Regions from separate parts of the Homo sapiens genome. Here region 1 is linked to region 2. A link means that fine-mapping ties the variant in region 2 to the expression of a gene that starts in the linked region. Tissue or cell type: whole blood. Region 2 holds a variant in brackets; the other region holds the start of a gene. All regions are shown on one strand. Distances are from middle to middle.

What was found. PIP is the estimated chance that this variant, and not a neighbour inherited with it, causes the effect.
Region 1: TBC1D16 starts here. The variant in region 2 is fine-mapped to the expression of TBC1D16 in whole blood (Lepik 2017, PIP 0.95).

Annotation. Positions count from the first base shown.
Region 1 is chr17:80,031,390-80,039,553 of GRCh38, forward strand. It overlaps TBC1D16 (TBC1 domain family member 16), which reads right to left and starts at 4,483. Exons shown (of 12, transcript NM_019020.4): 1 at 4,406-4,483. CCDC40 (coiled-coil domain 40 molecular ruler complex subunit) reads left to right here and starts at 5,253. Exons shown (of 20, transcript NM_017950.4): 1 at 5,253-5,302; 2 at 6,734-6,797. The coding sequence starts at 5,274. RefSeq lists a silencer at 4,482-4,551 and enhancers at 4,742-4,861, 5,761-6,055.
Region 2 is chr17:80,002,544-80,010,722 of GRCh38, forward strand. TBC1D16 (TBC1 domain family member 16) reads right to left here. Exons shown (of 12, transcript NM_019020.4): 3 at 7,617-8,179. Among named protein-coding and RNA genes, the nearest start is that of TBC1D16, 29 kb to the right of the region's middle. RefSeq lists an enhancer at 1-336. The variant GT/G (reference allele first, on the strand shown) is at 4,479.

The DNA.
Region 1 (8,164 bases), 29 kb after region 2:
TCAAGTTGTATTTAAAATGAAGAAACTAGGGCTTAGGGCATTCACTGCAGTGCTGGGATCTTGGACCATAGGGAAAGAGGACCCCTGAGAGGCTATAACGGGGCAGGACCATCACCAAAACGGTGGTGAGGGAAAACCTGGTGGCCTGTGTGGCTGTGACTCTCCTTTTGCAACTGTCCAGCGGTCACCCTGATTAGCACCCACTCCCTGGAAAACCCCAAAGCCTCTGCCTCCAAGGAGAGACCATCTGCCATTTGTGCACCCTTGATAGTAGATTGTAAAATCCCATTTCCCCCGCAAAGAGCCAAGGAGGTCAGGCCTGGGAGAAGAAACTCAACTCAGAGGTGAGCCTGGATCTGGGACTAAGGAAAGACTAAACACAAAGGGTAAGGGAAGATGCAGACCCAGCCAGGAAATCAAAAACTGCCCTGAGTCTGGCTCAGGTACCTCCTACTTCTATGCTGTGCCTGTAAACATGGAGGCCTAAAGCTTCTCAGCATCTGTCAGTGAAGGAGCAGTGAATGCACCGCAAAACAAAACTGAAACTGGGGGGACATATTAACAACACCCAAAAGCAACACAACTGATCTTGCTTTGGAAAGCATTTTAGTTACAGAAAAGGCAAAAGGCTGTCAAATGACATCTGTAAAGTTCACCCTTTCCCCCACTTCCAGAAGGCTAGAGTAATGATGAACTATATTGGAGCATTGAATTCAGGCTCACTCAACATGCAAAAAGCAGTACACGACTGAAGTGTGCAAGCCAGCATGGATGCGGGCTTGGCACCCGCAGTACGTTGGCTTCATAGTGACCAATCCAGAAAGACCACGGAGAAAATACTGCCACATCTCAGCGTCTGCAGCCCATACAGGCAAGCAGACACATGTATCACCTTCCAACGCCTGCACAGACTCACCGCCCAAGGCTCAGCAACAGAAGGGCAGGCCATTCCGACTGGACAGTGGATTTGGATTATTTCTCTTTTCTTTCTGTTATTCATGTGTCAGAAGCCACCACGGGCAGAAATCGAACTTAGTCTTACAGTGGCCCGATTTCTCTCATCCTTTGAGGATGGTTATGTAAGTTCCGAAGACAGAGTAAAGAACGTATTTCAAATCAGATGCCACCAGACAGCTCATAAAAGCAGATTTATTAGAGATGCAACATCAGGTGCTCAAAGGACAGATAGGATAAAAACACCAACAAAGCCAACAGGATAAAAAACACTGCCGCTGAGGTGAACGGAAAAAGGCCTCCAACATCATTGCCCCATATTTTTGGGAAGGGTGCAAATGTGTGCTCTCTCCTGTGCACTGGCCTCATTAACAGCAATATAATGCAAATGCAATACAAATGGTGTACAATTCGATCATAAAATCATCCTCTGCGCTGTCACCTTCACATCCCAGAGCCACCCGCCCCCGGTGCTTAATGCTGGATGAAACAAAGTAGCTAATCTTACAAGAGAATTTAGGCCTGTGACAAAAATCAGGGTCCCTCAGCCAGGGAAGAAGGGGAGCTAAAATTTTCACAGGAGGTGGTGTTGCCAGGCAACCTGATCAGCTCTGCTCCCCATAGCATCCTGCAGGGACCCAGCCCCCGGTCAAGTTGTAAAGATAAGGGTACACATACGCACAAATAGTAAATCCTACATCTGCCTGGAATCACTTTCCACCTCATGGACCACACAAAGGGGAGTGAGGAGTCAAAGCACAAAAACAAAATGTTTTGTGTCAATCTAGTTAAATGTGGAAAATCCAAATAACGGTCATTAATAACAGTGTTAAAATGTTACCATTTGACATTACTTACCACATCCTAAATGGTAACTCAGGATGTGTCAGGAATTCAATGCTTTTCATAATCCTTGCACAAAGTCTCTGAAGTAGGTAGTATAGATGGGGAAATTAAGGCACTGGAGAATTAACTAAGTGCCAGAGGAGTTGGGGTTTTTGTTGTTGTTTTGTTGTTGTTGTTGTTTGGGTTTTTTAGGTTTTTTTTTTAAGCAGAGTCTCACTCTGTCACCCAGGCTAGAATGCAGAGGCTGGTCATGGCTCACTGCAGCCCTGACCTCCCGGGCTCAAGCTATCCTCCCACCTCAGCCACCCAAATAGCTGGGACCATAGGTGCCCACCAGCATGTCCAGCTAATTTGTTCATTTTTTGTAGCGATAGGGTCTCTCTAGGTTGCCTAAGGTGGTCTTGAACTTCTGGGCTCAAGTGATTCTCCCAAAATACAGGATTATAGGTGTGAGCTACTATGCCCAGTCCAGGATTTGTATTTGAAGCCAGCAGTCCATCTTTCTACGCCATGTTCTTAACCACTGCACCTTATTACCCAAAACTGTGGACAGAGACCAGTGCAATTGTAGGTAGGTTCTGCAAACTCAATGGCTTTATCCTGAAGCCTGGGGGATGCTTTCCATACTGAAGTGAACTGAGATTAGCAGCTAGTGGTGACATGGGATTAGTCCCACCTCCTTGCACTGTTATGAACCACTTGGAAGAATGTTTGTATATGAATGGTGGGCACCCTCTGTAAGACAGAGGGCAAAGTTGTACAACGGTTTTCTGGAGCTGGGACGTCCTGGGCCTAAGGCCTAATTCTGTCACTCCTAACTGCATGAGCTTGGGAAGTTACTTCTCTAAGCGTCAGTGTTCCCATCTGTAAATGGGCATAACTGCAGTCCTGACTTCATGAGCTTGTTTTGTGGGTTAAGTGAATTCATGCATGATAATTAGGAACTACTAACGCAATCACCAAAATTGCTAGAGGATTAAATAATTCCACAGATAAAAACTTTTTTTTTCCTTTTTTTTTTTTTTTTTGAGACATAGAATGTTGCTCTATCACCCGGGCTGGGGTGCAGTTGCACATCTTGGCTCACTGCAACCTTCGCCTCCCGAGCTCAAGCGATTCCCCTGTCTCAGCCTCCTGAGTACTGGGATTACAGGCTCACGCCACCACACCGGGCTAATTTTTGTATTTTTAGTAGATATGGGGGGTTTCACCATATTGGCCAGGCTGGTCTCGAACTCCTGACCTCAGGTGATCCGCTCGCCTCGTCCTCCCAAAGTGCTGGGATTACAGCCGTGAGCCACGGCGCCCAGCCATAAAAACTTTCGCCATAAAAACTTTCGTTAGCCATAGTCTCACCATAAACATGCCACTTACAAAAAAATATGCGCACAATAACCACGCTCAGGATGCAAACAACATCCATTAATGAACTTTGTAGTTAATACCAAAAGTTACTCCTCACTTTATTCTTTATTTACAAAAGCTTTCATGGTTCTTAAAAGTGTTTAGTATTCACCAATTTTACTGTTAGCGTTTCTAATGAGGATTTTCTAAAACTGAGGCATGGATTTGAAAAAGTGTTCTGATCAATCAGTAACAGATTTGGAATGGAATCTCCAGCCCCCAGTCTTTGCGCCCACCCTCTGGCAATATGCCGCCTCACGTGAGCATCTTTAAGACGGAGTTCCCTTTTTATTCCAGATAAAAGAATTAGGAGCCTTCTGGTAGAAAAGAAAGCAGATCTTCAGGATCAAGTCGCAGAGGCTGGCCAATCAGCCCAGCTTCTCATTTGAACTTGACCCAGACAGTAAAACAAACTTTACCATAAGGCGAGACTAACTTTTGTTATGTCTTTTCTATTCATTTCCTATTTCTGAATCAAATCTGAACTACTTTGTGGCCAATATACGACACCAGCTTCCGAGTGTGGGAATCACAGGATTTCAGGATTCAGCGGCTTCCGGCAGGATCCCCTAGGTTATGTTTAGCAATCTTCAGTTGCCTTTCCTTTTTTTCTTTCCTTCCTTTCGTTCTTTCTTTCTTTTTCTTTTTTTTTTTTTCCCAAAGGAAAGAACAAGGGAGCCCAGGCGGAACGGAAGTGAGTATCCCGACACGCGGATCTTAAACAGCCCAGACCACCAAGCCCGACAGGCCGGGAAAGCTGAGCGCGCGCTGCTGGGGGGACGCACACTTTGGAGGCTGTGTGGGCGCGCGCCGGCACCCCACAAGTTCTCATCCGTCTGCTCCGCCGATTCAGCCAGACAAAGACCGCAAGTTCCCCGGTCCACCGCTCCAGACAGGCGGGGACCAGTCTCCCCGAATTAGGCCCATTCCGGGCCCGGGCGCCCTCACTCGCCGCGGGGAAAAGTCCCCAGGTGCCCCTCCGTGATCCAGGTCCTCCCACAACGCTCCCGCTCCTGCTGGCGCCCCGCACCCCGAGGACGGCGGCCGGACCCCGGCCCCTCCCCGGTCCCGCGGCTGCAGGCCCACGCGCCCCACGCGCCCCGCGCGCCCCCGCCCCAGCTCCGCCGAGGGGGCGCTGCTCGCTGCGCGGTGGACCCCTCGGACCCCGCCCCCGCGGCCCCGTCCGGGCCCCGATACCCACCCGGGTCCCGCTGCGGGGGCCGGATTCGCGCCGGCTCCGAGAGCCGCCACCGTCGCCTCCGCCGCTGCCGCCGCCAGTGAGGCGCGGCGGGGCGGGGACGCGCGGGGAGGCCCGGCCCCCGGCCCGCCCCCGGGCCCGCCCCCGGCCCGGCCCCTGCCTGCCCCCGCCGGTCTCCCCGCCCACCTTCTGGCCCAGCCCTGGGCCCAAGCCTCTAGTTCCCTGCTGGCCCTCCCTCAGGCCTCGCCGCGTCCCGGCCTCGGGGACTGTGCCCCGTCCCGAGCCTGGCGTCCCCAAAGGAAAGGCAGGGCTCCTCGGACGCTCCGCGTGCGCGCTGGCCCTCCGCTGCCGCCCTCTGCAGGGAGATTTCTCCTATTTCGGACTAGGAAGGGAAGATACGCTCCGGAAGACCCCCCGGGCGTCCATGCAAGGAGTCTCCGTAGGACCCCTGGAGAAGGGCACCGGAGCCCCCTAGGGCAGGAGATGGAAAAGCGCTCGCCATGCGCGGGGTCCCCGGCCCCCGGTGCCCCCAGCCCGCCTGCCATTCCCGGGCGCTTAGCAGTCCGGGGTCCCCAGGTGCCCGGCAGGTCCCTTCGGGACCTCGAGCCGCCCGCTGGGCACACGCTGACGCCGCTGTCGCTTTACAGAAATTGAGCGCAGCCGAGGCGGGACCCGGGCGCAGAGAGCGATAAAGGAAAAGCATGGTCGTGCTCTAATCATTACAGTCTAAGGGACGACACGTCGAGACGGCGCGCGCCTCTGCGTGCGTGGAGATGGCACAAAGGCCGCGCCGCCCCCGGCGGCCCCCGCCCTCGCAGCGCGCGTGGTCCCGGCCCGGCCGGATGTTGACAGCGTCGCCTAGCAACGGGAAATGGCGGAACCGGGCGGCGCGGCGGGCCGGTAAGCCGGGCCGAGGGGCAGCGGGTCTTGGAGTCGCCAGGCCGCGCTCTCCGTTCACCGCTCCAGGTGGCCCCCGCGTCGGCTCCTGCCTCGCCCCTTCGCCTCCACTCCCCCTTCCTCTCGCCTGTGTCCCTTCTCTCGCCATTTTGCTGGCCTTTCCCGTCCACTGCGTTCAGCCCCTCACCCCCCCGCCAACCCTTCTCACTTCTCCCCTCCTGTCCCTTTGTCCTCTCTCGGCCTCCCTCTTTCCCCTACTCCAAGCGCGCGACTCCCTCTAAAACCCGGGACCGCTCACTCTGCAGTCACCATGGCAACCACTCTGCGTGGCGGTCCCTGCGCGCAGTCCTCCTAAGAGTAGAGGGCTCTGCAGGGCGCGGGGCTGTTGGATACCGCCCCTGACCTTGCTCCGGGGCCACTCGCTGTGGCCGGAGACCAGCCCGGCCCCGCGCCTCCCTCCTGCAAGGACAGATCCCCTCTCGCAGGCTTGGGGGTGACCCGCGATGGGAGGGGTCCCTGCGGTTAGGCGGCCCGCGATAGTCCGCGGTCACCGTCCTGGGGCCTGGGTGGAAGCACTGAGCGCGCACAGGGAGGGCGGCTGAGTGAAGATCCCTGCCACCGGGCCTCTGCTCGCTTAGGCTCTGTTTAAAAGGATAGAAACGATTGGAAAGAGTTTGGCCTTTTTACCTTAGACACATCGGTATTGTTTCATTTTTTTAAAGGTGGGTCTGTATGTATTGACATGGAAAGACTAAAGGTATTATTAATAAAACGATAGGCATAAATGTAAAAGGGTAGGTATACTATGATCTCTAATTCAGGGTGTGTGTGTGTGTTTAAAACATAGAAAAATGTTGAAAGAATGTGGTCCTAAATGTTATCAATGATTATCTTGGGAAGGAAAGGGAAGATCACAGGGAACTGTCACTGTCTGTCTCTTTGAACATATCTATATTCCTTTGACAGATAAAAATAGCTTGAATCTTTAATTTTTTAAAAAAGATATACATATATATATATATATATATATATTCCTGTGCTACGTAAATCGTGGAGAAACTCAGAGTCCCCAGAACACTTACTCTGATCGCGCTACTTTCTCTACGTTGTATTTCTTTTCCCCAGTTTTGTCCCAGACACAAGTTATATTTGAGGTGACTTTTCTGGGGTGATCTAATCCTGCTGTTCCTTCGATGTTTTAATAATTATATTTTTCATTCATTCATGGAGCTTTGCTTTTGTGGCATCTCCGCCACCTGACAGGCATGATATAGTGCTATGGTTCCTGACAAACAGGACAAAGACGTGACAACAGCCTGGGGGTGGCAGAGAAGTAACAAGTAAATAAACAGATGTGCAGAATTCAGGAGGGGATAAGGACCAAGAAAAAGAAAGCTGTTGCTTGAAACTGTTCAATTGTTTCTCTAAAACCAGGTCCCATCCGGAAGATGGATCGGCTTCTGAGGGAGAGAAGGAAGGGAATAATGAAAGCCACATGGTAAAATTCCCTATGGGCAGTTATTCCGGGCTTATATTTACTAGGAATTAAAGAGAATCAGAGTACGGGCACTGTGGCTCACGCCTGTAATCCCAACACTTTGGGAGGCCAAGGCAGGTGGATCACATGAGGTTAGGAGTTTGAGACAAGCCTGGCCAACATGGTAAAACCCCATCTCTACTAAAAATATAAAAATTAGCCGGGCGTGGTGGTGCGCACATGTAGTCCCAGCTACTCGGGAGGCTGAGGCAGGACAGTGGCTTGAACTCGGGAGACAGAGGTTGCAGTGAGCCAAGATCACACCATTGCACTCCAGCCTGGGTGACCAGTGAAACTCTATCTCAAAAATAAATAAATAGGCCGGGCACGGTGACTCACGCCTGTAATTCCAGCACTTTGGGAGGCCGAGGCAGGCAGATCACGAGGTCAAAAGATCGAGACTATCCTGGCCAACATGGTGAAACCCTGTCTCTACTAAAAATACAAAAATTTGCCAGGCATGGTGGTTCACGCCTGTAGTCCCAGCTACTCGGGAGGCTGAGGCAGGAGAATGGCTTGAACCTGGGAGATGGAGGTTGCAGTGAGCCGAGATTGTGCCACTGCACTCAGCCTGGCGACAGAGCGAGACTCCATCTCAAAAAATAGATAAATAAAATTAAATTAAAAATAAATAAATAAAGAGAATTAGGACTTGGTCAAGTATATTGTATGATGACATTATCTTGCACCAGAACAAACTCAATTCAGTTGAAGAGAGACTCATTTTCTTCCTACCCCATTCTACAGTGTCAGTGATTAGTCAGGGATGCAAAGGATGTCCAACTTTGGGTTGCCCTGAGTTTTTCGGAACTCATTTCCTGTAACAAAGGATGCAAAAATGATTATGAAAAGCAGAGAGGGCCAGGCATGGTGGCTCACGCCTGTGGTCCCGGCACTTTGGGAGGCTGAGGCGGATGGATCTCTTGAGGCCAGGAATTCAAGACCAGCCTGGCCAACATGGTGAAACCCCATCCCTACTAAAAATGGAAAAATTAACTGGGCATGGTGGTACACACCTGTAGTCCCAGCTACTTGGGAGGCTGAAGCAGGAGAATCGCTTGAACCCAGGAGGTGGAAGTTGCAGTGAGCCGAGATCACGCCACCGCACTCCAGCCTGGGCAGCAGAGTGAGCCCCTGTCACAAAAAAAAATAAAAAAAGAAAGAACAGATAAACTGAAGCATGAAACATGATTTTTTTTTTTTTTGAGACAGAGTCTCACTCTGTCTCCAGGCTGAAGTTCAGTGGCACGATCTCAGCTCACTGCAACCTCTGCCTTCCGAGTTTAAGCAATTCTCCTGCCCCAGCCTTCTAAGTAGCTGGGATTACA
Region 2 (8,179 bases):
GGGGCCTTGTCTTATCATCTCGTCTTTCCCCCATTACTTTGGACAGAGAGTTTTTCGGGCCTGTCCTGCTGGGAGGGTCGCTACGTTTCTAGGGTCCACCTTCCATCCTCCCAGGAACATTCCGTCCAGACCTGTGCTGTCAGGCATGGAGGCCTCCCGCTGTGACCACCAAACTTCACATTCATTGAAGATAAAGAAAGACCAAAGTCCAGTTGCTTGGCCACATCTGCTGCATTTCTAGGGCGTGGTGGCCACACACAGTGGGGCACAGGCACAGGACCGCGTGCACTGCAGGACGCTCTGCTGACGGCGCTGGCCCAGGCACTGGGAGGACCCTGTGAGGAAGCACCCGGGAACGGTGGCGCACGTAGGGAACACCACGCGGCCTTGATAGGAGCTCTCCAGAGAGAAAGCTCAGGTCCCAGCAGGGGTCACGGAGAAGAAAGTCTCTTCCACCTGCAGGTGGGCTGGGGATTCAGCAGGAGAGAGGAGAACATTCCAGCTGCGGGCAGCAAGGTGGGAAGCGGCTATGCTTGGGGTGAAGTGCCCAGTGTGTGTGCAGGAAAGGGCAAGAGGAAAGTGGGAGGGCAGGGGGTCCCGGCAGCACCCCCAGGTGGGCAGCACATTGCTCCTGGCCCTTGCCCACCTGTGGCCGCGCCAACCCGCTTGGACTGAGTCTGACCTGGCAGGAACTGCATGACAGAAACCACAGTAACAAGTGGCCAAACTCTGAGGCCAGGCCACCCAGCCCATCCCAACACCCAAACACCATCTTGCCTAGGCTGGCCACCCCGGGAACGCATGCCGGGAATGACAAGAGGACCCAGGGAGAGAGAGAACGAAACACTCACTTCCCCAGGGGGAGGCCCCGCTGGCGGCACGGGACCCAAGGTGGCAGGCCGGCGGCACTGGTGTCACTGGAAGGACCTCAGTGACCAGCTCGCCCTGGAGGCCTCTTCACTAGTTAGCAGCGTGCAGCGCAGTGGGAGATGCTTAGCGTCCCCAAATGTGCAGGTTCTCCCCTTCTGTCTATTTTTATACATTGGTTTTCATTCTAAGCTTAATATAATCACAGAATAACATTTTTGAAAACAGAAAAGTAAAAAAAAAAAAAAAGTGCTCATAATCACACTAGGCTAACACGTGGGCACACCTTCCTCTCAACCTCTGCCATCCACTGCCGTGGCCACTGACCACAGGCGCTATCCACATTTATATTCATCAGGGCCGGGCACGCGGCTCATGCCTGTAATCCCAGCACTTTGGGAGGTCCAGGCAGGAGGGTCACTTGAGCCTAGGAGTTTGAGACCAGCCTAGGCAACAGAGCAAGAGTCTGTCTCTAAAAAATAAAATAAATGAACGGGGCATGGTGGTGCATGTCTGCAATCCCAGCTACTTGAGAGGCTGAGGTGGGAGGATCGCTCGAGCCCGGGAGGTGGAGGCTGCAGTGAGCTGTGATTGTGCTGCCGCCACCGTATGCCGGCCTGAGCAATACGGTGAGACTCTGTCTCTAAAAACGAAACTTAAAAACATTTTAAAATTAAAAACAATTTTATTAATCCGTATTATGTAAAATTAAAAATTCAGTTGCACTTGCGCCATTTCAAGGGTTCAAGAGCTGCATGAAGCCAGTGGCCGCAGTGCGGGACGGCGCAGACCTGGGTTCTGTCTGCCCTGGCAGAAGCTCTGCTGGGCAGCCCTGCCCTGAGAGCCTCATCTGCACCTCAGGCCTCTTCACAGAGTTTAACTGCAACGGGCAGAATCATAACCCGTTTCCTGCTTTGCGTCTGATTCACTCTAAATTTCCACACTGCAACACTGCATGGACCATTTGACAGTCCTTGTCAATACCACATCTTCTCCTATCTGGCAGCACCGAGCTTCTGAACGTTTTACAGGTCACAGACCTTCTGGGAAGTCAGATGGTGCCTCCTCCTCATATAAAAAAAAGTGGGGTAAGATCTCAGGGGTTCGTGAGCCCAGGTTTGAAAACTCCCTGATCCAACAGAGGGACCTTAGAGGGACCTTAGTCGGTCCACCTCCTCTGCCGTTGGATTCTTATGTTCTGCTCCTTTTTCCCCACTGTAAGGAATACCACGATGAACATCTTCATGCAGAAGCGTTTGTCTTTCTACTTTTATTTTCTTTTGAGACAAGGTCTAGCTCTGTCACCCAGGCTGGAGTGCAGGGGCACCATCTCGGCTCACTGCAACCTCTGCCTCCCAAGTTCAAGCGATTCTCGTGCCTGAGCTTCCCAAGTAGCTGGGATTACAGGCATGTGCCACCATGCTGAACTAATTTTTGTATTTTTAGTTGAGATGGGGTTTTACGGTGTTGACCACGCTGGCCTCCAACTGCCAACCTCAAGTGATCTGCCCACCTTAGCCTCCCAAAGCGCTGGAATTACAGGCTTAAGCCACGTGCCGGCCACTTTGGCCTTTCTATCTGTAATTTGGATTCTTTCTTAGGATGAGGTCCAGAGGAGACATTTTCACTTAGGGAGCAGAATCTGGTGTTTTTGTTGTTCTTGTTTTTGTTGTTGTTGTTTTTGTTTTTGACAAGGTCTCACTCTGTCACCCAGGCTTGAGTGCACTGGTGCGATCATGGCTCACTGCAGCCTCCACCTCCCAGGCTCAAGCAGTCCTCCTGCCTCAGCCTCCGGAGTAGCAGCTTGGATTAAAGGTGTGCACCACCACACCCAGCTAATTTTTTTTTCTTTTTGGTAGAGACGGGGTCTCGCTATGTTGCCCAGGCTTGTTTCAGTTCTTTATCCAGGTCACCAATGCACATCCCCGGGGCAGGGTCAGTGGACACGGTACCAGCCCCATGGCGCCCCGTTATTCCACACCCTCGCCCAACTGGCCTTTTAGGCTGGACGGTAGCTTCCAGCACAGAAACCAAGGGCAGGATGACCAGTCGCGCTTGGTGGTCACCCTCCCCAGCACACCCGAGAGCCTTGCTTTCTGACACTGAGGAGGGCACAGGACCAAGATAGCCCAGGGCTCACCCCCGGCTCGGGGAAGCTCAGGGTCTTGGGGTCTCAGGGCGGGGAGGCAGGACGACGCATTGGCGACAGCAGCTCTCCGTATCACCCCATCCCCCAAGTCAGCCTCGAATACTCACTTGGTCAAGGATTTCCAGGCCGTCGCTGGACTGGGGCCTGGGGCCTGGGGCTTCCAAAGGAGACCTCTGGGTTTAGTAGGTGGGCTCACCTTCCAGCATGCAGACCCCACCTGGCCATACTCTACAGGTAGCACACGAATGTGGGCAGCCCGGGGGATACTGCCATTTCTAACCCCTAAGCTCTTCTGTGAACTACTTGCCAAATAACCATATACCTGGGGGACCCTAGGCCCCCGGGGTGGGGTGGGGGAGTTGTCCCTCCTGGCCAATCTCAGCCAGACACGCAGCCTGCACATGCAGTTCTTCAGATCCACCACTAGAGGGGACCCTCGAGCCAGCCTACCTGCTCTGCCCTCCGGGGGGACTCAACTCCGGGTTAATTATTAATAGACGCCCCACCGCTCAGAGTGGCGATGGGTGCACCCGAGTCCTCACCAACACCCCTGCCTGGCGGGATGGCCAGTCATCTGGGGTCCTCGGCCCTGACACCCCTCCCCACCCCAGAGCACCAGGAGCGCTCTCGCTCTCTCTCGCTCTCTCGCTCTCTTTCTCTCTTTCTTTCTCTCTCTCTCTCTCTCTCTCAGCCCCTTCACAGCAGGGGTTCTCAACGCTACGTGCACTTCAGAAACCCCCAGGAAGTTCAAAACATTCCCATGCCTGGGCGCCACCCCAGCGATCCTAGTTTAATTGGTCTGGGTGCAGCCTGGGCATCAGGATTTTTAAAGCTGCCCAGGGCATTCTCATGGGCAGCCGGGCTGGGGACGCCTGCTCTACAGCGTCTAGGACAATTAACCACCTTAGCCAAGGATCTCCAGTCCCATCATACGAAGGCCCCGGGGGATGGGGATGGGGCAAGGAGCACCACCTCTGCTTCCTGGGTCTACCATGTGGTGGGGGCCAGAAGCGCACAGGAGCAAGGAAAGACCAGGGAAATGCAGATTCCAGGGCTCGCCCAGCCCCTTTCAGAATCCATGTCTGCTTTTCTTTTTCTTTCTTTCTTTTTTTTTTTCCAGACAGAGTATCTCTCTGTCACCCAGGCTGGAGTGCAGTGGCATGATCACAGCTCACTGCAGCCTTCACCTCCCAGGCTTAAGCCATCCTCCTGCCTCAGCCTCCTGAGTAGCTGGGACCATAGGCATGCACCACTATGCCCAGCTAATTTTTATGTATTTTTTATAGAGATGAGGTTTTGCCATTTTCCCCAGGCTGGTCTTGAACTCCTAGGCTCAAGCAATCCACCCACCTTGGCCTCCCAAAGTGCTGGGATTACAGGCGTGAGTCACAGTGCCCGGCCTCCATATCTACTTTTTAAAAATAAAAAGAAAGCTCTCAGCAGTCTGTCTTGGAGACAGGCT[GT/G]TTTCACTCCAGCCTTGCACTGAAGCACACGCTTCTGGCGGGGTGGGGAGAGTCCCATCCACATCCACCTCGTCCCAGCACAAAGCTGCAACTCGCCACGTTCAGCGAGCCTCCCCTGGACCGGGCTGACACAGGCCTGAGGTGCGAGCCACACCGAGCCCGCGGCCATGTGGCCAAGAGGCATTTTCTGAGCCTTCATCAGGAGCAGGGCCGGGCTGTGGTAAGCACCCCCCAGCACGGTCTCCGGGTGGGGACGAGTCCCAGGCCAGGCTCGCTGACCCCATACCCCAGGCTGGTGCTCAACCCTCACGCCGACTCTGCCCTACAAGGGGGTTCTTGGCCGCACTTCACACCCGTGAGGCATCTGCGTTTTGGATGTGGGAGGTAATGGCCACAAGATCACACATAACTCAGGATGATGCCAGGACTGGAAACAGATCTGTCGGACCCCAAAATTTACTCCTTCACCACCATCTGCCTCCCAGCAGCTGGGGACGGACAGGCGGACAGGGTGTCTCAGTGGGGACTCGAGTGTCAGAGCAGAGAAGGGGGCCATGGGGAGGGCCCTCCTCAGCCCAGGGTTCGGGGGAATAGAGAAGCCTCCCCCAAAAGCTGACATGAAGGTGCCTCGCCCCAGGAGCTGAGTCTCAAACATATAAGCTGGCCGGTTAGGAGAGAGGGGAAGGAGGAAGCCTAGGTAGAGGGGATCCCTAGCCAAAGGCATGAGGCAGAGAGAGCCCCACAAGATCTAGAGGCAGAGAGGACGACGAACTTGGAGGTGTGCACAGTGGGGGGTGGGGAGGCAGGCAGCATCGCTCAGCAGGGCCAGATGGTGATGGGCCTTGGACCCCGAGTGAAGGAGATGGTGCTTCATCCTGAAAATGATGGGCGGCCCCCGGTGGGTCCCAGGCAGAGGGACAGCCTGGCTTCCAGAGTGAGTGCACAGCACGCCTGTCCGCTGCCCACTGATGCCAATACATCCCCACCCTCAGTTGTGATAAAAAAAAAAAAAAAGTGTCTCCTGGCATTGCCATACACCCCCTGGGCACAGACTCGGCCCCGGGTGAGAATCACTGCTCTAGAAGAACCTGGAGGGACCTGGGCATCAGCGTCTAAAGGCTCCCCCAGGAACCCCCACATGCAGCCAGGTTGAAGAACCAGCAAGGCGAAGGGCGGGGAAAAGCGAACCGGGGTGCATTCTCACAATACCCCCAGAAAGTGGATATTACCAGCCTCATCTTACAAACAGGGAAACCGAGGCTCCAAGAAAAGAAAGAATTTCCCAGGTTCACACTAACCAGTGATGCCAGGACTCAACCGGCACTCAACTCCCTAACTCCTAAACTTGAGCTCCCTACGAGATGGGGCTGCGGGACAGAGAGCTGACCGGCCAGCTTCTGGTTGTGGTTCTGCCACAGAATCCTCAGCCCCAAGACCGTGGGCCAACCCCACCACCTCTCTGAGACACAACTGGGACCTTCCCCTCGCCTGGGCCCTGGGGATGCAGGGACACGGGGACGCCTGCAGGTTCTGCTGCACTGTTGGCCTGGCACCACCAGGGGGAGCTCCGACTGAGTCCGGCCTGCGGGACCCAGGCCAGGACCAGAGTTCGGGCCCCGCCTCCCCCACACCTCCTCGGGTTCCCTGGCGCCTGACGCCACCCAGCTCAGCAAGCCTCCTGGCACCTGGAGTCCTCAGTTACGGCTCACGGCTTCCTTTTATCTGCACTCTCCAATAACTGAGATGAATGTTATCGGTTCACCCTGGGGCTCTAATGGACTGCATCTTTACTGGAGGGATAAAATCAGGGAAGAACCCGTCCCACAGTCACCCCTGCTGAGGCCAGCAAAGCCTGTGTCCTTACTTCATGCCCCACCACTCCCCGGCTTAATCGGCCTGGGGTGACCTTTTATGCTGCAGCCCTGGGGCAGACCCAGCTGGGTTCACATCCCAGCTTGGCCCGGGCACTGGCTGGGAGACCCCTGGCAAGCTGCTGACCTTCTCCGAGCCGCCCTTTCCCCTTCGATAGCAGGGGATAATAGGAGGGCCCACCTCACGGGGCGTGGGGCTGTGGAAAGCACACACGTACCATCCATAGCCCACGGTGTCCAGCGCCCAGGCGAGACCCAGACCACCCACGTCCAGCATGCGCCCGGCTCACACCACGAGCTCAACAGTTAATGACCTGCTCGCTGACTGATGTCGGCTCTTACTGTTGTCTGTGGTCACCACCATTATTTGCCCAGAAATCTAATGAGCGTAAGGACCACAGCCGGGGCATAGGAAGGGGCTGTGGAAGTCGGATGCAGGCCCCCTGTGCTGGCTCTGGGGCTCCGGGCTTATGCGACCACACGGGCACTCACCCCAAGGCCATGAGGGCCCTCGTGGCACCATGCAACCCTCCCCACTCAGGAAGGTCTCTTTGGGTTCCAAGGCCCAGGGAACCCACCGCAGGGCACGGGCCCAACTCTAGCTCCTGCAAGTGTGGCCAGCAAGGAGTCCAGATACTCTGGCTGGACTCCCCAGGGTGCATAGCGGCTGCCAAGTCGGGTGAATATGGTCAACACTGCCCCGGGACTACATCCATCCTCCACAGCTATGAGAAAGAGGGAGGCTGAAGCCTCCGGGGACCACAGGGGGCCAGGTCACGTGCCCAGTGGGCTGCAGGGCAGAGCGGGGAGCTGGAGACCAGCACATCTGGGCTTGGGCCAGCCCTGTGCGTGAGCCTAATGATGCCACCCGGGCCTCTTGGGCACTCGCTTGGGGACTGAAAATCTCCTGCCCCTCCGGTGATGGGAACAGAAGGGACCAGGACTCCCGGGGGCTTAGCCTTGGTCATGGGCCCATCAGACCTGGTAGGGCCTGTTTAGTCCTAGTGAGTCTCAAGGAGAGAGAAGAATGTGGACACCCCGACGCACCCTTCACAGTCCTCTCAGTGGGGTGTAAAGTGGGGACTCCCTGCTGAAGCCCTTGCCTCAGGGAGGGGCTCCTGCCACAGCCACGGCCACAGCCGCGGGCAGGTCGGGCAGATGCCTCCAGCGCTCACCTGGCATCACAGGTGACGCAGGTGAGTGCTTCCTGCCCAGGTCAGGCCTTGGGGGCCTCCCGAGAGCCCACGCCCAGAACCAGGAACTCACCTGCTGTCACTTTCCAGAAACACGGAGCCGCGGCTCTCGGCCAGCGCCGCGCTGATGGGCGAGAGGCAGAAGGGCGAGGAGAAGGTGTCTGAGTCTGAGTCAAAGGAGCTGTCTCTGCTCACGCCCTCGGCTGACAGTTCCAAAGAGCCATCCTCCTCCCCGGCCTCGGGCCGCGGCTCCCGCCCCTCCTCGGTGACATCCTGCGGACTGACCGTCGACAAGATCCCGGAGGGGCTGCAAGCAGGCTGCGAGGCTGGCTGGGCACCATCCACCCCCAAGCCCTGCGCCAGCTTCTCCTCATCCTCTGGCGCAGGGCTGGCGAGCATGCGGTCTGGAACACTCTGGGCCACCACCAGGATGTCCTCATCTTTGGGGGTCAGGGTAGGCCGCAGCTCCGTCGGGGAGGGCTGGTGGGAGGCTCCTGAGCTCCGGGTGCGCCGGCCCCGAGGGCGGGGTGCCTTGCGAACGGGGGAGCTCTCGGGTGTGATGTAGCGCAGGGCCTCCTCGTCCTGCCTCTGGATGCGAGAGTTGGGGACCCATGCCAGGATGAGGGTGGCTCCCAG